4 linked regions of the Homo sapiens genome follow. The protein of the gene in region 1 interacts with the protein of each later gene in a pairwise test. Each region holds a gene or a part of one and is shown in the gene's direction. Other genes may lie near its edges. The genes, in order: TMEM237, SLC35E4, POMGNT1 and TMEM72.

Region 1 (7,314 bases):
GGGTTCGAACCCATGAACTGAAGCCCTATGTCATATTTATAAAGCCATCGAATATGAGGTGTATGAAACAATCTCGGAAAAATGCCAAGGTTATTACTGACTACTATGTGGACATGAAGTTCAAGGTAAGAGCAAGTCAAAAACTACTGTATTGCTTTCAGTGGCTTCTGCGTGGGAGAGATCTGGGTTGGGCTGGGCCAAGGATCTCTGATCTCATTGTCCTCCTCCTCCTTTTTGACCCCCTCTCCAAAAGGCCCTCAATAAAATGGTTTACTATGGTTTTATTTAAAAAAAAAATTAAAACTGTATTGTTTCTACAGGATCTGTGTTAGAGAATGTAATTTTTGTTTCTAATGGATAATGCCCTTACGATTTATCCTTTTGGATGGACATCACTTACAGATATAAAGTTTAATAAATGTTATGATGCTACCCTTATTTTTTACTTTCTTATTTTTTTGGGTCTAGCTTAAAAAAAAATCCTTGAGCCGTAGTTTGCAAAGCCAAACAGAAATTGGGCATGTATGAGCCTGGTGTTTGTATTTTAAACAGAATATCTTTTACTTAAAAGCTTACTTTAAAAATGCTCAGTGAGTATATCTCATCTGTAAAATGATGATGGTAATAATAGAGGGGGCAAGCCAAGTGAAATTAATCAGTGATCTCATCCTAGAACAGGTGATTTTTTTTCCGGTTGCGTACATATATTTTACATTAAATATGCTTTAAATATTGTGTCATAACATACATTCAGTAAGGTGTACAGAGTGTACAGTTTAATGAATTTTTATGTGTGTATGCACCCAGATAACCATCACCCACATCAAGATATTACAGCCACTTGTGTGTGTGTGTATATGTGTGGTAAAAATACATAAAACTCACCATATTAACCGTTTTAAGTGTACAGTTCAGTGTTAGTATTTAGTGTTAAGTATATTCACATTGTGTGAAACAGAGCTCTAGAATTTATTTACCTGGCAAAATTGAAACTAAAAATATGAATGATTCACTAAATATTTGTATGTCATGCTTGTACAAGGGCCATGCTAATCTCTGCATTGTTTCAGTTTTAGTCTGTGTGCTACCAAAGCAAGCACAGGTATCTTTAAATTATCCTTTCTCTTATTATTTTTATTTTCATATTTTTTGCAATGACTATGGAGGTCTGATTTTCCAGTTTGCCTTGTGAACAGTGGAGTCCATGAATGTATTTGCTGAGTCTTATGGGCATTTAAAATTGTTCTCATTTTTATGGCAGTCTAAACAAATTAACAAAATTGTTTCTGGATCATATGTATGGTCACTTTGTAAAGCCACAAGATTTTGGTGCCTGCATTTGTGTTTCAGATTGTATTGGTGACAAGTTGTACTATTTTCATGAACTAATAAGAAAATAACAGCAATGAATTTAATGCATTAGTGCCAAGTGAATGCCAAATTACCTTCATTAAATGAACATTTCACAATAGTAGAAACATAATATAACTGGCTTATACCATCCTCATGTTGAAAGTGGCCATTTTGTATCTTTAATGTTATCCCTATCAGATTAATGTTCACTTGAAATTTATGTTTAAATTTTATTTAAACTGGTACATTTTCTTTGGTTTTATGTTGTATATGGTTAAAAAGTTTCAAGTGTTTAGGTAAGAGTAAGATAAGTTCACACGGGAAGTTGAGGGGAGTAATCTGTCTGCAAACTATGACTAAATTTTGCAAAACATGACGAGACATTAAGACTAAAGATTAAAACATAAGTTTTGTAGTTTAGAAGACATTTATTGGACCTCATTTTTTAAAATAAAAACTTCAGTCTTTTATTATTTAAAAAAACTTCCAAATTAAAATTTCTTTATCTCAGTAATACATTTCTAAGAAATAAAGGATGACATACTGTGGATAGTGATATACTTTTCCCAGCTTTGCTTATGCTTCACATTAATTTAGAAGGATATGTTTATACCTGTTATAATAATTATATTTTCTCTACAAAAATTAGCTGGGCATGATGGCATGTGCCTATAGTCCCAGCTACTTGGGAGGCCTAGGTGGGAGGATCACTTGAGCCTGGGAGGCAGAGGCTGCAGTGAGCTGAGATGATCCTACTGCATGCCAGCCTGGGACAGAGTGGGACCCTGTCTAAAAAAAAAAAAAATTATTTTATCTATACTTAGCCACATTATTTCAATAACAGAGGGCAAAAAAATTACTATTTTCTAGTTTGCTGGTTTTGTAGAATTTTGAAAAAATATTTTTGAAACTTTATTGAAAATCATCTGTGCAAAATTTTCGGACCTTACTGTTTTTATACATAGTTTCACAACTGAATGTGACAGCATAACAAACTGTATTTTTTCCATTTGTCCAATTAAGTCTGTACTATCCATATTTTTCTATTTCTCCTAAAGGATGAAGACCTACAAGAGATGGAAAATTTAGCCCAAAGAATGGAAACTCAGTTTGGCCAATTTTTTGATCATGTGATTGTGAATGACAGCTTGCACGATGCATGTGCCCAGTTGTTGTCTGCCATACAGAAGGCTCAGGAGGAGCCTCAGTGGGTACCAGCAACATGGATTTCCTCAGATACTGAGTCTCAATGAGACTTCTTGTTTAATGCTGGAGTTTTAACACTGTACCCTTGATACAGCGATCCATAGTTGCAATCTAAAACAACAGTATTTGACCCATTTTAATGTGTACAACTTTAAAAGTGCAGCAATTTATTAATTAATCTTATTTGAAAAAAATTTTTATTGTATGGTTATGTGGTTACCTATTTTAACTTAATTTTTTTTCCTTTACCTCATATGCAGCTGTGGTAGAAATATGAATAATGTTAAGTCACTGAGTATGAGAACCTTTCGCAGATTTCACATGATCTTTTTAAGATTTAAATAAAGAGCTTTCCTAAATAAAATAAGCAATAGTTAACTTTAGAAACTGTACTCTATGAAACGTGTTTTATGAAAACATCTTTTACAAAAAGTGCTTACTTGACTAACTCAGCAAGAAAGGTTTAATGTACACATTTCACATCTAAAATCAAAACCTACAAGAAACTGCACTGCCTTCACTATTTACAAATCGGCCTACAAGGAAAAAATTATTCTCATGAGAGGTGTGACAAACACTAATTTTCCTTAACAGCCAATATCTACATGCAGGCCTAAATTAGAAAAAGGCAATGGATTAATCCCAGAGACCTATATATAGAAAATCACAAGAGTGAAACCGTGTCTCAGAGTTAAAGAAACCAGGGACTAACAGAAATTCTTGAGCATGCAGGACGGCAGATAAAAAACAACTTGCTAAATAAAACGCCTAAACTTCTTCCATTGTGAGATTAAAAAACAAAACAAAACAAAACAAAGCAAACTGGCTGAAAGTGGTTAGTACTAACACGGATGGCTACCTGGAGTCTGTACAAAATGAGCTTGCTGGCGTCACAGCTTGAATCTTTCCCCATGTTTCACACTGACTCCCTCCAAAATTTGCACATGCGACCCATGAAGGGACATGAAGAGGTAACTGCGAACGCCAGAGGATTTTCCAGATGGCTTCTTTCCTTCCACCAATCACCTACTAATCCCAGAATCCACCCCCTAAACGTTTTCTAATAAAAATACTGTCTTAAAGCCAACACAGGGAGACAGATTAGAGCTATACTCCTGTCTCCTTGTTAGCTGACTCACAATGAAAACTTTTCTCAAAAAATCAGCGCCATAATATTGGCTTCTGTGCGTATAGGGCAACAAGCCCCGTTTGTTTGGTAACAAGATTAGGATGCCATTACAAAGTGCTGTTTCTCTTTCTTTCCCCAGATTTGAGATTTCCAGGCGCTTTCCCTGTCCCTGTATCTGTTCATCTTCTGCATCATTCTCTTCTCCATATCCACACCATTCTTCCATCTTTCCCATTTCTTTCTTAACTGTAAAACAGAATGCATGATTCAAAATATTTGTAGTTCTCTGTTACTTAAAGTGAAAGTTATCTTTAAAAAAAAACAAACCCAACCAAACCAAACGATGCAAATCAGGTAGTTTGTAGTGATATTTATGTGAGGTTGGATTTGATTTTAAGGTTGAGAAAAAGTTTTTCCAAATTTGATTTACACAGTTGTGGGATGAAGGGTAAGCAATCGGAGAAAATGTGAGAATTGCCTATATTAATACACATCCACACACCCAGGCCTGCACAGACTCGTTGGTCCTGGAGAGTAAACGCATTCCTCCCAAACCCAGCAGCGCCTGGCAGGACAGAGGCGGGCGGGGACCTGGCTCAGGGGGCGGCTGCCTCGCCAGGCGCCACGAAGCCCCGGCGTCCCACAGGTCCCGGAGGCCGCTGCGTCGCGGGGAGCTGGGCTCGGGCCGCCGGCGGTTGCGCCGGGGCAGCCCCGCGGGGAGAGCACCATGAGGACTGACTCGGGGGCTCGGCTGGAGGAGGGCCACCTGGTGAGCGGCGAGGGGCGCGTCGGCCTCGAGAGGTGGCGGGTAAACAGCTACACTTGGCAGTGGGGGTGGGTGTGTGTGGGGGGGCGCCAACGAGCTGGGAATCACTAAGGGAGGGCCTTGCTCGTGGGGTGCGCGCATCCGCCCCTCCAGTGTTCACAGGAATGGGACGGAGACGCAGGCGAGGCCGGGACCGAACTCCCGGAGTGGGAGAGAGAGGCCTGGCATGAAGTTTGCGGGGACCTGAGCCCGCGTTGCCACGACGACGCCTCACTCATCTGAGGCCCGGGGCCCGGCGGGTGCCGGGGCTTCCAGCCAGGCCTCTCCTAGACTCCTCCGAGGAGAGGTCTGTAGCTGCCCAGAAGAGATCTGTTCGCCTGCGGAGTCCTTTAATTAAGGTCTTCCGTCACGCCCCGCTTCCCGCAAACAAATCACCGCCACCACTTAGGAAACCACGGGAAAGCTGTGATTGCAGCGCCACGGTCGCCAGATTTCTGCTCCTGGGCACATTACCCCCAACTCCGAGGCCCCCTTTTTGGCAGGGCTAGTCTGGACTGGCCAATCCAGGTCCCTGCACGCCTCTCACCGCAACATCCCCGCAGGGCGCTGCGCGCGGGGTACTAGCCAGGCGGCGCGGCCCGATGACGCATTGCGCCTGCGCGCGCGACCGAGCCGGGAGGGGTGGGGCGCCAGGTGCTTGGGGGCCGGCGGCCGCCGAGGCCGGCTAAACGCAGAATGGGGAAGAATCCTGTGGTAAGCGAGCCTTAGCTACTTTTAATTGTTAGGATTTTTGTCTTCAGTTGAGCCGTCCTACTTTTGAGGATTAGAGGTTGGGTCTCTGGGTGGGTGGAACGTCATTTTTGCGGGACTTTTGAAATCAGTTACGTGAACAGAGCCCTGGGATCGATCGCGCGCGCTTCGTAGCATCTTTAGAACAATAGCGCGTTCCTGTGACTGTCATTCTTCTCCAATTGTAATTTTGACTACTGGATGGTATTACGGCAGCTTGCCTCGTCCTAATCTTGTAGTACTTGCATTAATCTACTGTTCGAACGAATGGATTGCTAAATGGGACAAACTACAAGAGTGTCTAAAATTTAACCCTTTTGAATAAATGTCTTATGCAAGCAGCATGAGATACTTGGAACATTAAATTGGCTTCTAGGCATTTCTGTTACTATATGATTCTAAAATACTTCTCAACTGTAATGCTGTCTGAACTACAAACACTTTTCTTATTCATGTAAATGAGGGTTTAGAAGGGTTCCCCCCACCTTTCTTTCTGCCCTAAAACGCATTCTTCCCAGTGTATGCAACTGGCCTTTTTAAAAATTGTGTTAGTATGTGGTTTAAAACCTCCATTTGTTTCCCATTGAATTAAAACAAAATCCAAACTTCCCTTGGTCTGCAAGGCCCTAACTAATCTGGCTCCTGCCTACCTCTCCTTGGTAATTGTGCGGCAGCCTTGCTGTCCTTTTACCTGAAACATTCCAAGCCCAATTTAACCTAAAAATATTTGCATTTGTTCCGGTTGCTGCTTTCTCATTCAGGTCTCAGCTCAAACTCAGAGAAACTTTCCCTAACAAAAGTAGCACTCAGTCTCCTTCATTCATTACGTTTTGTGTGTGTGTATCTTGTGTATATATATATATATGCACACACGATATGTATACAAGATATGTCTTAAATATAGCATATAAATATATTTTATCGTACATGCTGCATATAATATATAGTATATATTATCATATATATATTTTTAACATTGTTTCTAATACTCAACCACTAGAATGTAAGTTTCATAAGAGCAGAGTTCTCTCCATTGTGTTCATTAGTGTATTCCTAATGCTTAGAAAAGGGCCTGGCCTAGAGATGGAAAGGAATGTAGGAAGGAAGGAATTTTATATGAAATTTAGGATGGGAGAACAAATTTTAAATTGCCCATGTTTCTCATCAGTACCTCCCAGGTTTCACTGATGAACAAGATTATCAAGAGATTTGAAGATCCTAGTCTGATCCATTATATTTTTCTGTCATGTCTGAACAACAGACTTTTGAAAGAATTGCTTTGGCCGGGCGTAGTGGCTCACTCCTATAATCCCACCACTTTCAGAGGCCAAGGTGGGCGGATTTCCTGAGGTCAGGAGTTCAAGACCAGCCTGGCCAACATGGTGAAACCCCGTCTCTACTAAAAATACAAAAATTAGCCGGGCATGGTGGTGGGTGCCTGTAATCCCAGCTACTTGGGAGGCTGAGGCAGGGGAATTGCTTGAACCCAGGAGATGGAAGCTGCAGTGAGCCAAGATCGTGCCGTTGCACTCCAGCCTGGGCCACACAGCAATACACCATCTCAAAAAAAAAAAAATAGCGTGATGGTATTTGAAGTAAAGATGCTCTAGGCTTTTACTTACAAGCAAATTTATTTTTTCCGCCACAGCGTCCTCCACGAGCTCTTCCACCTGTGCCAAGGTAAAAATAATTTACAGTAATTTCATTATTGAGCTTTAAAAATGGAAAATGAAGACAGTGGAAAAATTGACTAGTATCATTGCAAAATTACAATGATTCAGGAAACTCTTCTGAAAAATTTAGGGATTTTCTGAAATTTTAAAGGTGAAAAATCCTTGAATTTTAAGAATAACAGTTATAATGGAATGTTATATTTAAAAGCCTGAATATCAACATGGTAGGATAATGGATCCATTCCCTTTCTAACTGTTTTGGTGTCTTTTTTTTTTTAAATCAGAATTCTGGTCTTTTGTGAGAATAGTTTCCTCAGAGTTTAAGCTGATTTTAATCAGTCACAAGTAAGAGTTCTTAATCTGCTTAATCCATTTTATTAATAGACAGTAGGGAATAT
Region 2 (7,621 bases), on another chromosome or scaffold:
CCTGGGTACTTGAGATTAGGGAGTGGTGATGACACGAGCATGCTGCCTTCAAGCATCTGTTTAACAAAGCACATCTTGCACCGCCCTTAATCCATTTAACCCTGAGTGGACACAGCACATGTTTCAGAGAGCACAGGGTTGGGGGTAAGGTCACAGATCAACAGGATCCCAAGGCAGAAGAATTTTTCTTAGTACAGAACAAAATGAAAAGTCTCCCATGTCTACTTCTTTCTACACAGACACGGCAACCATCCGATTTCTCAATCTTTTCCCTACCTTTCCCCCTCTTCTATTCCACAAAACCGCCATTGTCATCATGGCCCGTTCTCAATGAGCTGCTGGGCACACCTCCCAGACAGGGTGGTGGCCGGGCAGAGGGGCTCCTCACCTCCCAGTAGGGGTGGCCGGGCAGAGGCGCCCCTCACCTCCAGGACGGGGCGGCTGGCCGGGCGGGGGCTGACCCCCACCTCCCTCCCGGACGGGGTGGCTGCCGGCGGAGACGCTCCTCACTTCACAGACGGGGTGGCTGCCGGGCGGAGGGGCTCCTCACTTCTCAGACGGGGCGGCTGCCGGGCGGAGGGGCTCCTCACTTCTCAGACGGGGCGGCCGGGCAGAGACGCTCCTCACCTCCCAGACGGGGTTGCGGCCGGGCAGAGGCGCTCCTCACATCCCAGACGGGGCGGCAGGGCAGAGGCGCTCCCCACATCTCAGACGATGGGCAGCCGGGCAGAGACGCTCCTCACTTCCTAGATGGGATGGCGGCTGGGAAGAGGCGCTCCTCACTTCCTAGATGGGATGGCGGCCGGGCAGAGACGCTCCTCACTTTCCAGACTGGGCAGCCAGGCAGAGGGGCTCCTCACGTCCCAGACGATGGGTGGCCAGGCAGAGACGCTCCTCACTTCCCAGACGGGGTGGCGGCTGAGCAGAGGCTGCACTCCCGGCACTTTGGGAGGCCAAGGCAGGCAGCTGGGAGGTGGAGGTTGTAGCGAGCCGAGATCACGCCACTGCACTCCAGCCTGGGCAACATTGAGCACTGAGTGAACCAGACTCCGTCTGCAATCCCGGCACCTCGGGAGGCCGAGGCTGGCAGATCACTCGCGGTTAGGAGCTGGAGACCAGCCCGGCCAACACAGCAAAACCCCGTCTCCACCAAAAAAATACGAAAACCAGTCAGGCGTGGCGGCGCGTGCCTGCAATCGCGGGCACTCGGCAGGCTGAGGCAGGAGAATCAGGCAGAGAGGTTGCAGTGAGCTGAGATGGCAGCAGTACAGTCCAGCTTCGGCTCGGCATCAGAGGGAGACGGTGGAAAGAGAGGGAGAGGGAGACCGTGGGGAGAGGGAGAGGGAGAGGGCAATAAAATTTATGTATATATAAATTATTATTGTTGCTGAGCAAGGTGGCTCATGCCTGTAATCCCAGCACTTTGGGAGGCCAAGGTGGGTGGATCACCTGAGGTCAGGAGTTCGAGACCAGCCTGGCCAACATGGTGAAACCCCATCTCTAGTAAAAATACAAAAATTAGCCAGGCATGATGGCAGGTACTTGGGAGGCTGAGGCAGGAGAATCACTTGAACCCGGGGTCGGGGGGTGTCAGAGGTTGCAGTGAGCTGAGATTGTGCCACTGCACTCCAGCCTGGGTGACAAGAGCGAAACTCCATCTCAAAAAAAAAATATTACTGTTGTTGGTTTTTTCTCTCTTATTATTTTTTAATTAAATTTAAAAAAGTTTTGGTCGGGTGCGGTGGCTCACCCCTGTAATGCCAGCACTTTGGGAGGCCAAGGCGGGTGGATCACAAGGTCAGGAGATCGAGACCATCCTGGCTGACACGGTGAAACCCTGTCTCTACTAAAAATACAAAAAATTAGCCGGGCGTGGTGGCGTGAACCTGTAGTCCCAGCTACTCAGGAGGCTGAGGCAGGAGGATAGCATGAACCCAGGAGGCGGAGCTTGTAGTGAGCTGAGATCGTGCCACTGCACTCCAGCCTGGGCGACAGAGCGAGACTCTCTCAAAAAAAAAAAAAAATTTTTTTTTGAGGCAGGGTCTTTGTCACCCAGGCTGGAGTGCAGTGGTGCAATCTTAGCTCACTGCAGCCTCCATCTCCTGGGCTCAAGGGATCCTCCCTCCCAATCCCCTGAGTAGCTGGGACTACAGGCAGACACCACCATGCCAAGCTCATGTTTGTTTGTTTGTTTGTTTGTTTTTGAGATGCAGTCTTGCTCTTTCGTCCAGGCTGGAGTGCAGTAGTGCGATTTCTTCCAGGCTGGAGTGCAGTGGTGTGATTTTGGCTCACTGCAAGCTCTGCCTCCCGGGTTCAAGCGATTCCCCTGCCTCAGCCACCTGAGTAGCTGGGACTACAGGCGCCCACCGCCACACCCAGCTAATTTTTGTATTTTTAGTAGAGACGGGGTTTCACCATGTTGGCCAGGCTGTCTCCAACTCCTGACCTTAAGTGATCCGCCAGCCTCGGCCTCCTAAAGTGCTGGGATTACAGGCGTGAACCTCTTCGGCCAGCCTCCCAGCTTATTTTTGTATTTTCTGTAGACACGAGGCTTTGCCCTGTTGCCCAAGCTGGTCTCCAACTCCTGAGCTCAAGTGATCCTCATGCCTCAGCCTCCCAACGTGCTGGGACTACAGGCATGAGCCACTGTACCCAGACTATTGTTTTTTACTAAAGGAGACTTACTAGAAAACTGACAAAATCCAGGCTGGGCGTGGTGGTTTACGCCTGTAATCTCAGCACTTTGGGAGGCCAGGGTGGGTGGATCACCTGAGGTCAAGAGTTTGAGACCAACCTGACCAACATGGTGAAACCCTGTCTCTACTAAAAATACAAAAATTAGCCGGGTTTGGTGGCGCACGCCTGTAATCCCAGCTACTCGGGAGGCTGAGGTAGGAGAACCACCTGAACCTGGGAGGCAGAGGTTGCAGTGAGCTGAGATCGTGCCATTGCACTCCAGCCTGGGCAACAAGAGCGAAACTCGGTCTTGGAAAACAAACAAACAAAAAAACCTGACAAAATATCAAAGATAATTATAACCCTTAGGGGTCCCAGATTTCTCTTCCTCAGGAAATGGCAAGGGGGTGCGGGAGAGGGGCCATCCGCTTTGGCTGGCTTAGTTTCCTTTCCACAACCCTTTCTGGAGAAACACTAAATGCCACCATTTTTTGGTCCTTGGCCTGGAAATTTCCCTATCTGCACCCCCTGCGCTGTAGCTTAGGCTATTCAGCAGAGATCTGCAGGCTCCAGCGGGCGTCGGACTTACAGAGGCAAATGTGACCATGTAAATTCCCAGGCCCACCCGTGACAGAGAGCCTCTGATTCAGCAGGCCTCCTTTGAGGCTGGGGATTTTAAACCCGCGTCCTGTGATTGGGATGGGGATTGAGGGCTATATTCAGCGCCTGGCCACCAGAGGGCGCAGCGGGCTGGGTTCAGCGGTACCCCTTTGAGATCTTGTGTCTCAAGACAGGTTGCTGTCATCAAGGATTTGCTGGTTAGACAACAGGCAAGGGGTGAGCTGGGTCCTCTTGGGCAGGAGCCTAGTAGGAAGACCGACAACAGGAAAGAGGCTCACATCTGATACTGGGCACATGGCTGGGCCTTGGTCCTCGTGCTCCCGGACTTCAGAGCTCAGAGGGGCCAGGGCCTGGCCTAGCCTGGAATCTGGATGGACCTCTTCTGCCCTGGGGCGCGCCGTTTACCCAATCCTGACCTCAGAGAGCGTCTGTCGTTCTGGTGGGAAAACCGAGACCCAGACAGGAACAAGGGCTCAGTGGCAACCGCTCTGCCTCCCAGCCCAGGGCTCTGTCTTGCCGGGGCTGGGGCACAGGGTGGACCCCAGGAAGTTCTGCTATGAGTCAGCTTCGAGTGCTCAGGGGACCGGACAGAGGCTGCTGGCCGGGGAAGGATGCCGGCCGGCGGTACCTACTTCCGCAGCTGTGGGTATCCCTGCCTGGTGATTCAGCTTCCCTCTGAGGGTCCCCAGGGGGCGCCGCCCTGGACTGGGAGGCTGGGGAGGATGCTGGGGCTACGGAGGGGCGATGGAGGTGCCTTAAGGGACCCCGTAATCCAGCTCTGCTGGATGCTGAGGTCCCACGAGATAATTGTGGCCAGAGATCAGGTGGGCGTAAGACTGGTCCTAGGATGGGGGCTGTGGGCCCCTCCTCACTACCCTGCTTCTTGAAGATAGCCTGGGCGGCTGTGCGGGATACCCCAGTGTCTCCAGCAATGCGCGTTCATCTCCATGGAGGGCTCGCCTTGGCGCTGGGTGGGGAGCGACTTGGTCCCCCCTGGCGGCGAAGAGAGGCTGACCACGCCAGCTCGTGGGGGGGTCTACTGGGCAGATGCGCAGGCCCCGGGCGGAGGAGGGCTGATGGGGGAAATGCCAGGCCGATGGGGGAGGGGCTGTGAGCGGGAGGCGTTGGGGCGGGGCAAGACCGCCCTCCCGGTCCGGGGGCGGGGCTTGGCCTGGGGCGGGGCTTGGCTGGGGTGCTCAGCCCAATTTTCCGTGTAGGGAGCGGGCGGCGGCGGGGGAGGCAGAGGCGGAGGCGGAGTCAAGAGCGCACCGCCGCGCCCGCCGTGCCGGGCCTGAGCTGGAGCCGGGCGTGAGTCGCAGCAGGAGCCGCAGCCGGAGTCACAGCCGCAGCCAGAGCCGCAGCCAAAGCCTCAGAGAGCAGGAGTTGGAGCGCAGGCCCTGCTGGATCCGCGCCTAGCTCGCCGCCAGGCACCGGCCGGAGGACGGGCCGTGGTGTCAGCTCACTGCCCGGGCGCTGTGGGAGGCAGCGAGCCCGCGACCCCCCGGGCCGGGCACCGCCAGGCGCGGAGCCCAGATCGCCCCCCTGCCAGGCCTGGTCACGGCCAGAGCACGCAGGAGTTCCCAGGGTCTGGATCTGCGCGCACCCTAATGACCTGGGGACTGAAGAGAAAAAAGGAACGAGGATTTCATCTAAAAGCATAACGTGGGCACTAGGCGAGGAGGAAAGTGGAGACCACCTGGCACGGGGCAGAGGTGCCTGGAGCCCACGCTTGAGCATCGGAGACCCTGGCATCCTAGCAGCCGCGACCTTGGCTCTGCCCTGTCTGAGCTGGAAACACAGCTTAGCTTCTAGACATCGCTGGCACAGGCCTGGCACAAGTAAGCAGTGTCCTCACCTGTCTGAAACGGGACACGGGGTCGGAGGAACCAGGATCTAGCCTGGCCCCAAGCGGAACTCTCTGGTGGCCCAGAGGTCGTCACTGGGGAGCCCGCCTCCTGCCCTAGCCTCACTGGTGCGGATGTGCCGCTGCCCGCCGGAGCACCATGATGGCAGGATGACCTCAGCCGAAGTAGGAGCAGCAGCTGGTGGTGCTCAGGCGGCTGGGCCCCCCGAGTGGCCCCCTGGCAGCCCTCAGGCCCTCCGGCAGCCTGGCCGGGCCCGAGTGGCCATGGCAGCACTGGTGTGGCTGCTGGCGGGAGCCAGCATGTCAAGCCTCAACAAGTGGATCTTCACAGTGCACGGCTTTGGGCGGCCCCTGCTGCTGTCGGCCCTGCACATGCTGGTGGCAGCCCTGGCATGCCACCGGGGGGCACGGCGCCCCATGCCAGGCGGCACTCGCTGCCGAGTCCTACTGCTCAGTCTCACCTTTGGCACGTCCATGGCCTGCGGCAACGTGGGCCTAAGGGCTGTGCCCCTGGACCTGGCACAACTGGTTACTACCACCACACCTCTGTTCACCCTGGCCCTGTCGGCGCTGCTGCTGGGCCGCCGCCACCACCCACTTCAGTTGGCCGCCATGGGTCCGCTCTGCCTGGGGGCCGCCTGCAGCCTGGCTGGAGAGTTCCGGACACCCCCTACCGGCTGTGGCTTCCTGCTCGCAGCCACCTGCCTCCGCGGACTCAAGTCGGTTCAGCAAAGTAAGTGCCTGGGTGGCCAATTGAGAAGGTGGGGGTCCGGGTGGGTGCATGGCCTGGATGGCCCTGTGAGGGGTATGGCTGTTGTCCCATTTTACAAATGAGGAAACTGAGGTTCATGGCTGTGGAGGAAGCAGAACTGAGGCTCAGAGAGGGCCAACAGTTCAGTGAGTTCCAGGCCCCAGACTCAGGCTCTGGAGGCCCAACTCGTGTTTATTTGTTTATTTACTTATTTAGACAGGGTCTGGCTCTGTCACCCAGGCTGCATTGGTGAGATCTCAGCTCAATACAGCCTCCGCATCCTGGGTTCAAGTGATTCTTCTGCCTCAGCCTCCCAAGTAAGTGGGACTACAGGTGCACACCACCACGCTAAGCTAATTTTTGTATTTTTAGTAGAGACAGCATTTTACCATGTTGGCCAGGCTGATCTTGAACTCCTGACCTCCCAAGGTGCTAGGATTTCAAGCGTGAGCCACCCCACCTGGTCAGCTAATTTTTTTTTTTTATAGACACAGAGTCTTGCTATGTTGCCAAGGTAGGTCTTGAACTCCTGTCCTCAGCGATCTTCCCCCCTCAGCTTCCTGAAGTTCTGGAATTACAAACCAGTATTTAGTGATAGCCAGTGATCTGTGTTTGACTAGCCTTTTATCTCACTGTATTGTTCCCATTTGATAGATGAAGAGGCTTGCCCTGGGCCACGTGGCCAGTGAGCAGCAGAGGCAAGATCTAAACCCAGATAGTCAGACTCCATGCTTCCAAGAGATGTGGCCTGAGGCTTTGGACACAAAGGAAAGCCAGAAAGCATGGGCCAGGGAGAGAAAAGGAGGGTCTGGGATGAGCTGGGATTTGGAAGGTCAGGGGTCAGGTCTAAGTCTGGGGAGGGCTGTTGTTTACTGGGAGCTACAGTGTGACAGGCTTGGTGCTGAGTGTTGACCTTGAGTTGTCATGGCAACCACCAACTTTATCCCCATTTTACAGATGATGGGACTAAGACCCAGAGAAGTTCATGATTTGACAGGCTGGGCATGGTATCTCATGCCTGTAATCCCAGCACTTTGGGAGGCTGAGGTGGGAGGACTCTTGAGACCAGGAGTTCGAGACCACCCTGGCCAACATGGTGAAACCCTGTATCTATTAAAAATACAAAAATTGGGGCCGGGCGCGGTGTCTCATGCCTGTAATTCCAGCACTTTGGGAGGCTGAGGCGGGTGGATCATGAGGTCAGAAGTTCAAGAACAGACTAACCAAGGTGGTGAAACCCCATCTCTACTAAAAATACAAAAAAATTAACCGGGCGCCATGGCAGGTGTCTGTAATCCCAGCTACTCGGGAGGCTGAGGCAGGAGAATAGCTTGAACCCGGGTGGCAGAGGTTGCAGTGAGCCAAGATCGCCCCACTGCACTCCAGCCAAGGCGACAGAGTGAGACTCCATCTCAAAAAAAAAAAAAAAAAAAAAAAAATTGGGCCAGGCGCAGTGGCTCACAGCTGTAATCCCAGCACTTTGGGAGGCCGAGGCAAGTGGATCACCTGAGGTCAGGAGTTCGAGACCAGCCTGGCCAACATGGGGAAACCCTGTCTCTACTGAAAATACAAAAATTAGCTGAGCGTGATGGTGGGCGCCTGTAATCCCAGCTACTCAGGAGGCTGAGGTGAGAGAATCGCTTGAACCTGGGAGGCGGAGGTTGCAGTGAGCTGAGATCACGCTATTGCACTCCAGCCTGGGTAACAAG
Region 3 (7,842 bases), on another chromosome or scaffold:
GCCGCGCAGCACCGTCTGTGGATGTATTCGAGTGCTGCGCACACAACCTCTGGCCCTGGATTGCGTGGGGCTGGGCGATTCTGGAGTTGGACCTGAAAGAGCACTCGGAGACCTCAGCGCCTTCGCCCCACCCTGGCACTGAATCCAGCCAGGCACACAGCAGGCGCCCAATACATGTTTGCAGAATGAAGTCTAAGCAGCTTCAGTCAGAGATGTGGGAGTTTAAGGAACAGCGGTAACAGAGAGCTGCAGAGGGCTTGGAAGTCTTCCTGGAGCAGAGGAATTGGGTATAAAACGATGACTGGATTTTAGCTAGACACACACACACACACACACACACACACACACACACACCACCCCCCCCCCCCAGGGGCTAGAATTCAGGCTAACGGAGTAGAAAAGGGCAACCAGTACTGAAGCTGAAGAGGTCCACGTTGGGCTTACAAGCAAGATGCTCCTTAAGCTTGACTGTGCGTATGAATTATCTGCGGATCTTGTTAAAATGTAGGTTCTGATTTTGTAAATCTGGGGTGGGGCTTGAGATCCTGCATTTTTTTTTTTTTTTTTTTTTTTTTTTTGAGACAGAGTCTCGCTCTGTCGCCCAGGATGTAGCGTGGTGGCGCGATCTTGGCTCACTACAAACCTCTGCCTCCCTGGGTTCAAGCAATTCTCCTGCCTCTGCCTCCTGAGTAGCTGGGATTACAGGCATGCGCCACCATGCCCAGCTAATATTTTTGTATTTTTAGTAGAGACAGGGTTTCACCATGTTGGCCAGGCTGGTCTTGAACTCCTGACTTCAAGTGATCCGCCTGCCTTGGCCTCCCAAAGTGCTGGGATTACAGGTGTGAGCCACTGCGCCCAGCCAAGATCCTGCATTTCTAATAAGCTCCCAGGTGATGGCCATGCTGCTGGTCCACACTTCAAGTAATAAGGGACCACACTTTGAGTAACAAGGTTACAGAAAATGGTTCTGAGATGTTTGGGTTTTATTTAACAGGTAATGAACAGCCATGAAAACTCTGGTTTGTTTAGGCTTTTAATTCAAGTAATTCCAGCCCATGGTTGCAGAAGGATTTACAATGAGAAGATAGTTACCCCTACCCTACCCTTTCACACCTCTAGGCCCACTCCCAATTGGCAAAAAATAACTTTTAGTTTTTTTTTTTCTTTTGGTGTTCATACCCATAACGTTATTGTTTAGAGTTAACTAAAAGTGGTTGCCAATTGGGAGTGGGCCTAGAGGTGTGAAAGGGTAGGGTAGGAGTAACTATCCTCTTATTGTAAATCCTACCACTATTTTTTCTTTTTTAGAGACAGGGTCTTCCTACATTGCCCAGGCTGGACTCAAACTCCTGGGCTCAAGCAATCCTCCTGCCTCCCAAGCAGCTGTGACTACAGGAGTATGCCACCATGCCCAGCCACACTACTTCTCAATTTTAAACATTCATCTGCTGTTTATTGTCCTATTCAGATAAATATGGATATATGGGTTTAACTCACACTCTGTAGTTCCTTTCCCCCATTGGCAATATATATTTCTTTTCTTTTCTTTCTTTTTTCTTTTTTTTTTTTTTTTTGAGATGGAGTCTCACTCTGTCGCCCAGGCTGGAGTGCAGTGGCACGATCTTGACTCACTGCAACCTGCCCTCCTGGGTTCAAGCGATTCTCCTGCCTCAGCCTCCTGAGTAGCTGGGATTACAGGCACGTGCCACCATGCCCGACTAATTTTTGTATTTTTAGTAGAGACGGGGGTTTCACCATGTTGGTCAGGCTGGTCTCGAACTCTTGACCTCGTGATCTGCCTGCCTCAGCCTCCCAAAGTGCTGGGATTACAGGTGTGAGCCACTGCGCCCGGCCTGGCACTACATATTTCTATCACTCTTTTTAGTTCATCTAAGGTTACCTTTGTAATTAACTTTTTTTAAAATTTAGATAGAGTCTCGCTATGTTGCCCAGGCTGGTCTCGAACTCCTGGCCTCAAGCAATCCTCCCACCTTAGCCTCCCAAAGTGCTGGGATTACAGGCATGAGCCACCATGCCTGGCCTACCTTTATAATTTTAAGTAACATCATTTTCCTTGGTACTTTTTGATCCATGGAAGGGTTTTAAGTTAGAGATAGACAAAACATTTGTCTTTTTTTTTTGAGACAGAGTCCGGCTCTGTTGCCCAGGCTGGAGTGCAGTGGCACCATCTTGGCTCATTGCAACTTCTGCCTCCCAGGTTCAAGCCATTCTCCTGCCTCAGCCTCCTGAGTAACTGGAATTACAGGCACCTGCCACAACACCCAGCTAATTCTTGTATTTTTAGTAGAGACGGGGTTTCACCATGTTGGCCAGGCGGATCCATCCGCCTCAGGTGATCCACCCGCCTTGGCCTCCCAAAGTGCCGGGATTACAGGCATGAGCCACCGAACCCGGCAACATTTGCCTTAAAGAAAATCACTCTGGATTTTGCAAGGAGAAAAGGATAGGAGGAGTAAAAATCTAGAGTCAAGGAGACTGGCTGGAAAGCAAGAAACTGAAATGGCCTGCACTGGGGCTGATTGTGAGGTCAAAGAAGAATTAGACTAGAATGGAAGGCTCTTTAGGAGGTAAGACTGACAGGACTAGGTGACTGGTTACATTCATTTATAGTGGCATTCAATAAAAATTTGTTAAAAAATACAAATGAATGATTTCAACAAATGTTACGGAGAGCTTACTATGTGCCAGCCTTTGTGTGTGGTGTAGAGAATACAATGGTGAGCAAGACATACCTGGACTGGTCACTGGAGACAGACAAGGAGTCAAGGGTGACTCCCAGCTGTTTGGCCTGGTGCAGTTCACTGAGGAGGGGAACCCACAGGAAATCTAGGAGTGAAAGGAAATGATTCCAGAAGTTGTGCTGTTGCGTTAGAGGGGCCTGTGAAGATGTCCTGCTGGACATCAGGCAGCCTGGAGCTCAGGAAAGAGGTTAGAACTGCCAATGTCAGTTTGGGCATCTAGATTGGTAACAGAGGTCATGAGAGAATGAGATCATCCATGAAGAGTCAGTTTGAGGAGAAAAGAGGGTCAGGAAGGAACCCTGAGGGACATCTTTTAATTATTTATTTTTATTTTTTTATTTTTTGAGACGGAGTCTTGCTCTGTCACTCAGGCTGGAGTGCAGTGGTGCAATCTCAACTGCAACTTCTGTCTCCCAGGTTCAAGCGATTCTCCTGCTTCAGCCTCCTGAGTAGCTACGATTATAGGCGCCTGTCACCACGCCCAGCTAACTTTTGTATTTTTAGTAGAGACGGGGTTTCACCGCGTTGGGCAGGCTGGTCTCAAACTCCTGACCTCAACTGACCACCCCACCTCGGCCTCCCAACCTGCTGGGATTACGTGAGTCATGGTGCCCAGCCGGGACATCTTTTCAAATGTAATAAAATGTGTTGGGTTTTCTTCCATTCTTATACATACTTACTAGGAAAAATCATGTATTTCTTTAACTCCTAAGACAAGTACTGTTAACATTTCATTTTGGGGGATATTACCCCACCATTCAGGAAGCAGATGGAATACAGAAAGCTCAAAAAAATCTAACTGGTCTTCTGGCTTCCTCTGTCTGCTTCCAACCCATTCTCCACAAAAAAAGTAAAGGTTCTCTTAAAACAGAAATTGGATTATATTGCTCCCCTGCCTAAAACTGTTCTATGGCTATCCACTTCAAACAAGCATCAACATCACCTAGAAACTTCTCAGGAATGCAAAATCCCACCCTGCCCCAGACCACTGAATCTAAAACTCTAGGGATGGGGCCCAGCACCTCTGTTTTAAGAAGTCATCCAGGTGATTCTGACGCAAGCTAAAGTTTGAGAACCATTGTGTTAAGCTAACTGCTTTCTATGTATGATGTTATTTAAACCTGGCAATTCTTATGTATTGTTGCCAGCAGAGTGCAGTGGTTAAGAGCAGAATCTGGAGCTAGGCTGAGTTTCAATTCCACCTCTCCTAGCTTTGTGATATTAGGTCTTATTTCTTTATCTGCGACAGGGATAGTAATAGCGCCTATAGCCAGCACGGTGGCTCACTGCCCATAATCCCAGCACTTTGGGAGGCCAAGGCGGGCGGATCACTTGAGGTCAGAAGTTCAAGACCAGCCTGGCCAACATGGTGAAACCCCGTCTCTACTAAAAATATAAAAATTAGCTGGGTGTGGTGGCGCACGACCGTAGTCCCAGCTACTCAGGAGGCTGAGGCAGGAGAATCGCTTGAACCCAGAAGGCGGAGGTTGCAGCGAGCCGAGATGGTGCCACTGCACTCCAGCCTGGGCGACAGAGCGAGACTCCGTCTCAATTAAAAAAAAAACAATAATAATGATAATAGCGCCTACCTCATGGGGTTGTTGTGGAATTAAACATCATCAGTAAGGTGCTTAGAACAGTGACAGAACCTGGATTTTAATCTCCCTTGGCCTCCAATAGCTGTGCATGCCCCAGGACTAGGTAACGGCCTTGCCCAGGACGGGTATGGGGCGGGTGGTGTGTGCCCTGTGTCCAAGGGTTGCAGCCCCTCTGACCCTGGCGTGCCCTGTGATCTGGTCCAAGGTGCTAGGCCTCTGACTGGAGTCGGGCTTGCCATCGGCGGTGCTGGGGAGCGGGCTGCTCTCGTGCAGGCAGCCCCACCAGCCAGCCGGGCTGCGAAGCTGCCTAGCACGGTCTGAGCATTCGCCTTACTCGCTGGCTGCTTACACCCCGACGCCGCTGCCGCCACCGCCGCCGCCGCCGCCGCCGCCCTAAGCACCGCCCGTCGCCCTCTCACCCCGCGGCAGCGGCGGCGGCGGCGGCGGCGGAAGCGGGGGGGCGGGCCAGGCCGGGGCGGGGCCGCAAGCGGCATGGAGGAGGCGGAGGCCGCGGCGAGCCGGGCCGAGCAGTGAGGGCCCTAGCGGGGCCCGAGCGGGGCCCGGGGCCCCTAAGCCGTGAGTGCCTCCGCGTGGGTGTCCGGAACGGGTAGCGCTGCCGGTGCAGGTCTCCTGAGCCCTCGGGCGGCTCCGGGCCCTGGGAGGAGGAGAGAAGCTGGGGCAGATAGGATGGGACGAGGGTTGAAGACTGGGGCAGGAGAGGTCGCTCTTTGCTCACCACAGGCTTGGGAAGGCCTGGAACTTGGTCCTTGTAGGGGCTAACGAACTTTGAGCCGATTATTTGGCCTCCACCCTTGGACAGCCTTGATTCAGAGAGTTACTCCAGTCTCAGGGAATTTCCAGGTGATCCAACCCCACTGAAGGGTTTCCTGCCAGCCCAGAGAAGTTGAGCCACTTTCCCCATGTCACACAGTATGGGTGCTTGCAGGGAAGAGTTGCTGGGAGGTCCTCCCTCATCTCCCCAGAAGGCATCAGACTTTGGGAGGAGCATCTTACCCCATGTGGCCCTCTGGTCCCTTCAGATTCCTGAAGTCATGGGCTGGCCAGGACATTGGTGACCCGCCAATCCGGTATGGACGACTGGAAGCCCAGCCCCCTCATCAAGCCCTTTGGGGCTCGGAAGAAGCGGAGCTGGTACCTTACCTGGAAGTATAAACTGACAAACCAGCGGGCCCTGCGGAGATTCTGTCAGGTATAGAGATGTCCCAAACCCTCCCCACCGAGCGCTCCCTCCCAGCTTCCTCCCCACCTAAATCAGGCACTGGGACCCCTGTTGGCCAGCCCCAGTGGGAAAGGGGCAGCAGGTTCCTAGAGGGGAGACCTCTATGTGTCATGTCCCTATAGGTAATGATTTGAACCCAAAGTTCTGGAATCGGAACCCAAGTACAACTTCTAAGCTTCTGACGGAAGCCTGAAGTCTGATCAGGCTGGCTTTGCAGAGAGGCACACCCCTGTGAGGCAGTTAGGGCCAGGACCCAGGTCTGATCCCCCGCTTGGGTCCCTGGGCCTGGCTCCATCTCTAGAAACCAACAATGGAGGGGACCAAGGAAATCAAGGTCTCAAATAGAAGAATACAGGAGCACTGGGTAGGGAGGGCCCTAATGGAGGGGGAAGTGTCAGGGGAGGTTCCCTGGGGAAAGTGGCTGTGAAACTAGGCCCTGGTCAGGGGAGTAGAGCTAGGCAGACAGAGGAAGGGACAGGACCCAGTTTCTCTGGATGTCTTCACTGCAGCCAGGGCCCTCCTTTCAGAAAGACCCTCTAGGATCTGAAGGAGGTGCTCCTCTTAATCATCCCTACCCCTCCCCTCAGACAGGGGCCGTGCTTTTCCTGCTGGTGACTGTCATTGTCAATATCAAGTTGATCCTGGACACTCGGCGAGCCATCAGTGAAGCCAATGAAGACCCAGAGCCAGAGCAAGACTATGGTAGGGCTAGGCTAAGGATGGGGTAGGGGGCCTTGGATCTCACAGCTGGAGTGGCAGGCAGACCCTAAGCGGTGAGACTCTGCTGAGGAGACTATCTCCATGACCTGTTGTACCCCACAGATGAGGCCCTAGGCCGCCTGGAGCCCCCACGGCGCAGAGGCAGTGGTCCCCGGCGGGTCCTGGACGTAGAGGTGTATTCAAGTCGCAGCAAAGTATATGTGGCAGTGGATGGCACCACGGTCAGTGGGCCAGGGTCTGGTGTACAGTCACTCTATTCTGCTCAGGGCATGGTCCACTGGCAGCAGGGTCTACTGCCTAAGTGGGAACTGCAACTCTGCCAGTTTCTAGCTGTGTGACTTTGGAGTCCTCGATTCCTTATCTATAGACTGGGACTAATGATTTCTACTTGTCAGGATTCAATGAAAAGTTTGTGAAGTGTCTTGTATGTAGTGGGATCTCAAAAGTAATCATTCATAATAGTAGGCAGTCAATTCATTGATTTATTTTATAACCATCCCCTGGTCCTTTCTTTGGCCTCAGCCTTGTGCTGGGCACTGGGGACCTGAAAGTAATCAGACCTGGCCCTACCTTGAGGGGTTCAGTGTGGTGGAGGATTGTGATACTTCCAGGATGAAGCAGAGACAGCAGAGGCTCTAAGAGCCATGAAAGTCATGGAGGGGAGGGTTGTAGAAAGACGTGATCTCTTCTGATGGGAGTGCTATAGAGGCTTTCTGGAAGAGGTGGCCTTCGAGCTGAGTTGGAAAAGAACTGTGTGAACAGAAACATAGGCAGGAGGTGATGTTTCAAGCAGCTGGTGTTTTAAGTACCCCTAAGACAGAGACACCTTGAATGCCAGAGTGAAAAGCTGGACTTTGTCTCTGCCACTGTGTAGGTGCTGGAGGATGAGGCCCGGGAGCAGGGCCGGGGCATCCATGTCATTGTCCTCAACCAGGCCACGGTGAGTTTCTAGGGGTGGGTGACCCAGAGGGCTGGAGCTGGGCTCTTGCTGATGACACCAACTCACCAGAAGTATATCCCCTGCCAGGGCCACGTGATGGCAAAACGTGTGTTTGACACGTACTCACCTCATGAGGATGAGGCCATGGTGCTATTCCTCAACATGGTAGCGCCCGGCCGAGTGCTCATCTGCACTGTCAAGGTCAGTTATTCTGTCCTGACCCTGACCCCTACTCCCTAGCTCCAACCCTGCTTCTAGCCCCGGCTTCTCTGCCCCTCATATAACATAGTGGGAAGATTCTCTGAAGGAAGGTTACTCAGGTTCCAATCTCAGCCTTAACATTTGTATTAATTCAGCAAATAGTTATTGAGCAACAGCTGTATGCCAGGTACTTCTCTGGGTGCTGAAGATACAATGGGAAACAAGACAGAGTCCCCACCCTCATGGAGCTTATATTCCAGCAGTGGGAGGTCAACAGAAACAGCCAAGTAAATGTGGATAATGCTAGTAAATGATAACTTGTATAAAGAAGAAAATAAAGCAGGGGATAATGAATGATAGAGGGGAGGGGACATTTTA
Region 4 (7,020 bases), on another chromosome or scaffold:
CCTCTGGAGCAGTCATGTGGTTTCCAGGACATAACAGACCACTCCCGCATTGTTTACACCGGGTTCATTTGCTTCACCTCCCTGGCTCAGGATGTGGGGTTGGGGGGCAGGCGCCCATGGGTCCATGTGCATGCATGCGCCCGTGTGATGTCTAAGTGCCTCAGTTGCTGAGACGCGGCATCCATTGCCGCCCATGGAAGCAGACACAGCTGGGAAATGGCACACAGGCTGTGAGCACTCCACATTCCCCTGTGCGGATGCCGGAGCTCCTGCCTGTCCATCCCTCAAAGCAGGTTCTCCCCGTGTCCACTAGAGACAGGGTAAAGATGTCCTGAGTGTGAGACTCAGGCCCCAGAGGAGGCTCAGCCCTGTGACAGGTTCTCAGCACAGACCAAATGGCAGGAAAGGGGTCCTGGGAAATGGATTTAACTGAGCCTGGAGCACAGCGGTCCAGGGCACTCCTCCCCTGTGAGATGAGAAAGGACCTGTCCCACAGCATTGGTCCCAGTTGCAGGCTAGGAAAGCAGGGTTGGCTTCCCTTTGAACTTCAGCCATCCTCTTACCCTTTAACCTCAGGGGAATCTTGAATAACTCCTTTGCCACTCCCCAGCCCCTGCTGAGGTGGCCAGGAAGAGCATGGGAAGAGCCCCCTTTGTGGGACAGAGGAGGCACCTCTCAGGCCGTCCAGGCTGGGCATGGAGGGAAGGGGAGACATGTCCCTGAGCCCCGCCTTGTAGTGAAAGCCCTCCCCTCAGGCTGTGTCCTCACACACAGATGTGCATGGGCTTCCCCATAAGAGGCTTGCTCAGAAAATGTCTCTGGGCACTTGAGCAAGGCCTCCCAATTTCCCTCAGAGCAAAGAGGCTCCAGCTTGAGGCCCCACTGCCCCATCTCCAGGGCTGAATTTCACTCTTCCAGCCTCTGCCCAGAGCAGAGGTTGCTGAGAATGAACATGATTATTTGAGTATTTACTCAAATAATACTCAAAGCCCAAGCTTTGCACTGTGTATTTTAAATGCAGTATCGCATTTCATCCTCCTGTCATTGGGAGCATCATCATGTTCATCCTCATACCCACTGTACAGGAAGGGAAACCGAGGCCTGATGGAGCGAAGCATCTTGCTCAGGGTCTCACACCAGGAAGCAAGAAGACAAAGTTCCACCTGATGATGGTCTGCTCCTGAGACTCCACTCCTAATCGTTATTTCCTCCACCTGAATCAGGATTAAAAAGCATGTCCCATAGTATTTTGATGACCCCAAGATGCAGGATGCAAAACACACAGAGGAGAGCAGGAGAGGCTTGATCAGAACTTCCCCATCCTCTACCCTCATGCTCCTGCCCTTGGTCAGTTCTGATCAGTCAGGTGGGGTCATGGTGAGGACACACGTACAGTGAAGCACATAGTCAAGGATCACCAAACACTTTCTAAATCTCAAGACACCGATATTCATTGCAGCTATCCATTCTCTATCTCAAGATTGCCACACATGCTTTAACCAGCACCACCGTGACCTTCTCTAGCCAAATCTGCTCCTGGAACCCATCTGGGGACAGACAAATCTGCACACATTTCCAGGGGGAACTATCACAGTAGGGCTTGCCTTGATGGGTCCAGAGGTGCAGGGCTGACTGCATGCATTATGGTCATTGTCTCGCTCCAGCCCCACAAATGCCTGAGACGCTAGAGTGCTGGGCTCAGTCCTATTTTACAAATGAGGAAACTGAAGCTCAGAACATTGAGGTAACCTGGCAGAGGTCACATGGCCAGGAGACAGAGGTCCGGTGTTAGAACTCCACTCTGCCCAAACACAGGGCTGTGTTATGGCAGCTCCAAAGCAAAGGGCATGGCAGAGCCAGCAGGGCATGAGGGGATGGAGGCAAAGCCATTCTGAGTGAACTCTGCTTGTCAGGCTGACGTGCTGTTTCTCACAAATTGAGTGCTTGGAATCAACCTGGAATCACTGAGGGGTTTTATTTTGTTCCAGGTTTTGACCCATTAACCTGTTTCTCTATATAATGGACACAGCCACATTTTCAACTGCTCCCATGCTTCCCACACAGTTAGAGCATTGGCTTATTAATGTACATTAGGAGAAAAGAAGTATTTAAAACCCAGCTGTTCTCATTATATTTTAAAGGATAGAGCAAATGCATAGTTTGACCTTAGCCCTGTTCAAAGCCTTCAGGAAAACAAATGCTTCTGAAGCAGCCATCTTGGGCCCTCCATGCTAATTTTACCCCTCTTACATGTATATCCCCATGACCACCTCCTGCTGTTTAAGAAAGTGTCATGCACTCCAACGCCTCGCAAGAGATTTATCACCCAAGTGAGCCCACATTGTATTTTCAGACCTTCCAAGTGAATGTTGACTGTTTTCCTTTTCTGTTACAATTGGCTCCACAAGTAAATGGAATCTGCCTCCCTCTGTTCCCCCCACCTACCACCAACAGGCAATAGGATTTGGTTCAAACATTTCTTTTTTCACAACTTTGTGCCTGTGCCTTGCTTCTAGATTTATAACAAGAAATCTGAAACTTCAATTAGGTTTCATTTACTTGGCAAACTGTTGCTGAGTCCCCAGTGATCTGCTCCTGAGACTCCACTCCTAATCGCTATTTCCTCCACCTGAATCAGGATTAAAAAGCATGTCCCATAGTATTTTGATGACCCCAAGATGCAGGATGCAGTCCAGTCCTGCATCCCCAGTCCTGAGTCCCCAGTCATGCAGCATAGACACATGGATTAGAATGGCAAGACCTTGCCCTGTGGGAGTGTATGGGCTGGACAGAGAAGCAAACTAGTAAGTGCACATCCGAGCACCAAGCACTGCAGCGTAGTGTTTGGGAGGTGGGTCTGTGTCCTGGGACAATCACTGTATCTACCCTCTGGAGTTGTGAGGGCTCAATGAAACAATGGCTAAAGTAGCAAGCTGCCTGGCACATAGATTCTCACTCAGCATGGGCTAATTTTAGAGGAACGTGCAGGGCATGGAACTGTGTAGCATGAGTTATCAGCTCCTTTTGTTGGAAGGAAGAAGAAGGAAGATCCGAGGAAAGGAGCAAAGCAGTATGTGACTCATGAGGCTGGAAGGAGGAAGGGGCTACACTGTAAAGAGCATTATACTGGGAAACATTTCCCATCACATTCTGAGCTTGGGTTGTGAAGATCAGCCCACAGGAACTTGGCTATTTCTACACCACATATAGTAAGCCAACCAGAGGAAAGATGGCAGCCCTGTTTTATTTTTCATGGGATGACAGCTCTTTCAAGATTGTCCTGGGTTCTATTCAGCCTTCTGAAGAGGGCTGTGAACAAAAAGAAATGTTGTCTGACATAAGTGGCTGACACTGTGAAGAAGGGGCTCAGGAAACCCCCAGGAGACCAGGTAAGGGTCAGATGAAGAAGCCTGATGTGTGTGGAATGGACAGAGAACAATGGGAGCATGGACAATGCTTTCTGGAAACCTGCCATGTGGATGAGTGAGCAGATGCATTCTCCCTGAACACTGAGAAGGAATAGGAAGTGAATACCTCGGTTCTCCCTGACATTGAGACCTAAAAGAAATTTCTCCTGTGGGCCTGTATAAGTTTGTTTTCACACTGCTGATAAAGACATGCCCAAGACTGGGCAATTTACAAAAGAAAGAGGTTTAATTGGACTTAGAGTTCCATGTGGCTGAGGAAGCCTCACAATCATGGTAGAAGGCCAGGAGGAGCAAGTCACATCCTACATGGATGGCAGCAGGCAAGGAGAGACAGCTTGTGTGGGGGAATTCCTCTTTTTAAAACCATCAGATCTCTTGAGATTTATTGACTATCACGAGAACAACACGTGAAAAACTTGCCCCCCTGATTCAATTACCTCCTGCTGGTCCCTCCCACAACAGGTGGGAATTCAAAATGAGATCTGGGTGGGAACACAGCCAAACCATACCAGGGTACTTACAAGGGAGATGCTATTCTACGTGGGAGACACTATCCTCAGTAGTGCCAATGAACCATATGGGTCTGCAGAGTCCTTCCTCATCACCAAAGAGTGGGGTATCAGCACAGATGGCCTCACAGGTGAATTCTACCAACACTTAAGGAAGAAATATCTATTCCACACAAACTCTTCCAGAAATTTGAAAGGAGGCAATACTTCTCAACTCATTCTATAAAATTAGTATTTATGTGGATACCAAAACCAAAGATATTACAAGAAAACTATAGACTAATATTCTTCTCAATATAGATGCAAAAATTCTAAGCAAAGTTTTAACAAATACAAATATATTGAAAGAATGATATATCATAATCAAGTGGAGTTCATCTCAGAAATGCAAGGTTGTTTTAATATTTGAAAAATCAATTAATGTAACTTACCATGTGTTATGGACTAAATGTTTGTGTCCCCCCAGCCAAATTCATATGTGGAAATCCTAACACCCAACATGATTGTATTAGGAGGTAGGGCCTTCTCTGAATGGAAATAATGCCCTTATAAAAGAGACCTGAGAGAGCTCCCTAGGCCCTTCTATCATACAATGTGCGGTAACAGTGAGAAGACAGTTTTCTATAAGGAAGGGGTCCCTCAGATACCAAATCTGCCAGCATCTTGATCTTGCATTTCCCAGCCTCCAGCACTGTAGGAAATAAATTTCTGTTGTCTATAAGGTACCCAGTATATGGGATTTGGTTATAGCAGCCGAAATGGACTAAGACATCATATTTAAAAACTAAAAAAGAAAAACCATATTATCATCTAAATAGACACAAAGTTTTAAACGAAATCCAACATTCTTTTATGATTAAAATAAAACTATCATCAGCAAACTAGTAACAGAAGGAAACTCCCTCAACCTTAAGAGGTCATTACAGAAAACATACATCTACTTAAATGTAAAAGACCAGGTGCTTCCTCCTAAGATTAGGAACAAGGCAAGGGTGTCCACTCTACCACGTCCAGTCAGCATTGTACTGGAGGTTCTAGCCAGTGCAAGAAACAGAAACAAAATGCATACAGATTGTCCAGGAAAAAGAAAAATTTTATTCACAGATGACGTTATCATCTGTAGAAAATCTAATAGAATCTACCCCAAAAGCTACTTGAGCTAATGGAGGGAATGGCAACATTGCAGAAGACAAGCTTAATATATAATAATCAACTGTATTTCCATACATTAGCAACAAACAATTAGAAAATGAAATCTTTAAAAATACAAATTATAATAGCATTGAAAATCCGAAATATTTAGGGATAAATCTGACAAAAGATGTAAAACAAACTACACTAGAAACTAGAAAACATTGCTGAGAGATAACAAAGAAAATCTAAATGAATGGAGATGCATCTTGTTGATGGGTCAGAAGGCTCAATATCGTTAAGACATCAGTTCTCCCCCAAATTGCTATACAGTTTCAATAGGAGCTCAATCTGAAGTCTCTTCCAACTGAATGTCCAGAAATATCTGCCATGAAATCCTTCCCTTTTCCCACACTGTCTCTGAACCCTGGCTCATGTATATCAGCTGAACTGATCTCCACACGTAGGTAAACCTCCCCACCATGCTTACTGTTTGCCACAACTTCTGAGCTAAGAAGCCTGTGGCTACTACCTTACTGTCCCAGTGAATTCACAGCAACTGTTTCCAGCAACTCCATAGTCTTGGAAATGGTACAAATCTAGCTTTTCACCTCTACCCTGGCGGTGACCACCTCTCCTGGACCATCCACGCCCATTGTCATCAGCCTGGAGCGTCTTTCCCTGAGGTGTCTTTGGACACCCTGAGTCCAGCAGGAGATGAGAATGAAAAGAAGCAATAAATATACGCGGTGGGTTCGGAGGCTGCCCTCAGCAACAGTGAGTACAAAATTCTCATCCAATGCCCAGGGCATCCAGTGCCAAGGTTAGTGTGGCCTCTGATGACTGTGAAGCGTCCCATGTTACCACCAAGGGCATCACAATAAATGCAAGACATATGTCACAATTCAACCCATGGAGTCAGAACGGATAAGCAACAGTGGATCATGAGGTCAGCCCTATGGCAAAAGCAGCAGCAGCCTGAGGCCAGGGGAATATCCCCTCAGTAGGCAGCCCCGCAGATGGCCCCAGCCTCAGGAACATGCTGGCCTGAGCCCCGTGGGGACCCTAGCAGGGTTATGGAGGGCTAATACAAGAGATGTGGAGATAGATGGGAGTTTGGGTCACTTATATCCCAACTGGGCTTTGAGAAGGGACCTCAAAGTAAATTAGTGAACAACAAGCAACACTGGTGCACAGGGAACAGCTTTTTGGCCACAAAAAAACCCACAAGTGTGTTAATGGGAGCAAAGGATGAGAATAAACCCTCTCCTTCCACTGGAGAATACTGATGGGAACCGCCTGCCTCTTATAATAGCTTTCCTAGCCATCGTCTGCATTTGTGCAGCACTCTCATTTACTTAGACTGAGCAGTGGTCGGCACCATTTTGCATGTTTTTATTTTCCCCATTTTCCAGAATAAGATGCAGACCAAAGAGTTAATCACTTTCCTGAGGATGCAGGACTCAGCTTTTCTGATGCAGGCCCCATATTCTTTCTGCTCTGGTGCAGCCCCCTCCTAGCTTTCGTCAACCCATGCTGAGACCAGAGCTCCAGGATGAGAAGGATACTCACACAGTGGCTGCCCTGCCCAGGGCTGTACCACAGGCTCTTGGCCCAGGATCTCTGATCTCTGCTAAGCCTGAACTACAACAAACAGCTCAGGAAAGCAACACAGAAGCAAGCCCTGGACCCTGAGAGAAGAAAGTTCTTGTACCAAGGTTGGATCTGGCCCACACAGGAGGGACAGAGACTGGAGGGAAGGAGCTAACAAGATGAGAGAGGCCAGGCTTGTCCATGAATGGCTCCATCAAGGTGCGATGCAAGGCACCTCCTGGGATCATGCAGGGAGTGAGACAGAGGCGTGGGGTGAGCTGTGCTGGAGTGGGCATAAGGTACCTCTGTTGGGCTGGGGTGAGAGTAGCTGGGGAGCCTGAGGTGGGATAATAGGGAGG

Evidence for each region.
Region 2: the proteins of TMEM237 (region 1) and SLC35E4 interact in binary tests that used the Homo sapiens proteins (3 or more experiments, as listed by UniProt).
Region 3: the proteins of TMEM237 (region 1) and POMGNT1 interact in binary tests that used the Homo sapiens proteins (3 or more experiments, as listed by UniProt).
Region 4: the proteins of TMEM237 (region 1) and TMEM72 interact in binary tests that used the Homo sapiens proteins (3 or more experiments, as listed by UniProt).

Annotation. Positions count from the first base shown.
Region 1 is NC_000002.12:201,640,502-201,647,815, reverse strand, and holds the start of TMEM237 (transmembrane protein 237), read left to right. Parts: upstream 1-4,312; 5' UTR 4,313-4,415; coding exon 4,416-4,457; intron 4,458-5,145; exon of another isoform or gene 5,146-5,189; coding exon of another isoform or gene 5,190-5,207; intron 5,208-6,891; coding exon 6,892-6,923; intron 6,924-7,314. Other genes in the region: MPP4 (MAGUK p55 subfamily member 4), read left to right, coding at 1-125, 2,412-2,606. UniProt on the Homo sapiens protein: Component of the transition zone in primary cilia. Required for ciliogenesis.
Region 2 is NC_000022.11:30,631,176-30,638,796, forward strand, and holds the start of SLC35E4 (solute carrier family 35 member E4), read left to right. Parts: upstream 1-4,605; 5' UTR 4,606-5,275; coding exon 5,276-5,894; intron 5,895-7,621. UniProt on the Homo sapiens protein: Putative transporter.
Region 3 is NC_000001.11:46,195,433-46,203,274, reverse strand, and holds the start of POMGNT1 (protein O-linked-mannose beta-1,2-N-acetylglucosaminyltransferase 1), read left to right. Parts: upstream 1-4,840; 5' UTR 4,841-4,939; exon of another isoform or gene 4,940-5,224; intron 5,225-5,403; 5' UTR 5,404-5,453; coding exon 5,454-5,573; intron 5,574-5,725; exon of another isoform or gene 5,726-5,913; coding exon of another isoform or gene 5,914-5,967; intron 5,968-6,190; coding exon 6,191-6,305; intron 6,306-6,425; coding exon 6,426-6,544; intron 6,545-6,785; exon of another isoform or gene 6,786-6,974; coding exon of another isoform or gene 6,975-7,073; intron 7,074-7,197; coding exon 7,198-7,263; intron 7,264-7,350; coding exon 7,351-7,464; intron 7,465-7,842. Other genes in the region: TSPAN1 (tetraspanin-1), read right to left, coding at 6,975-7,073. UniProt on the Homo sapiens protein: Participates in O-mannosyl glycosylation by catalyzing the addition of N-acetylglucosamine to O-linked mannose on glycoproteins.
Region 4 is NC_000010.11:44,914,323-44,921,342, forward strand, and holds part of TMEM72 (transmembrane protein 72), read left to right. Parts: intron 1-7,020.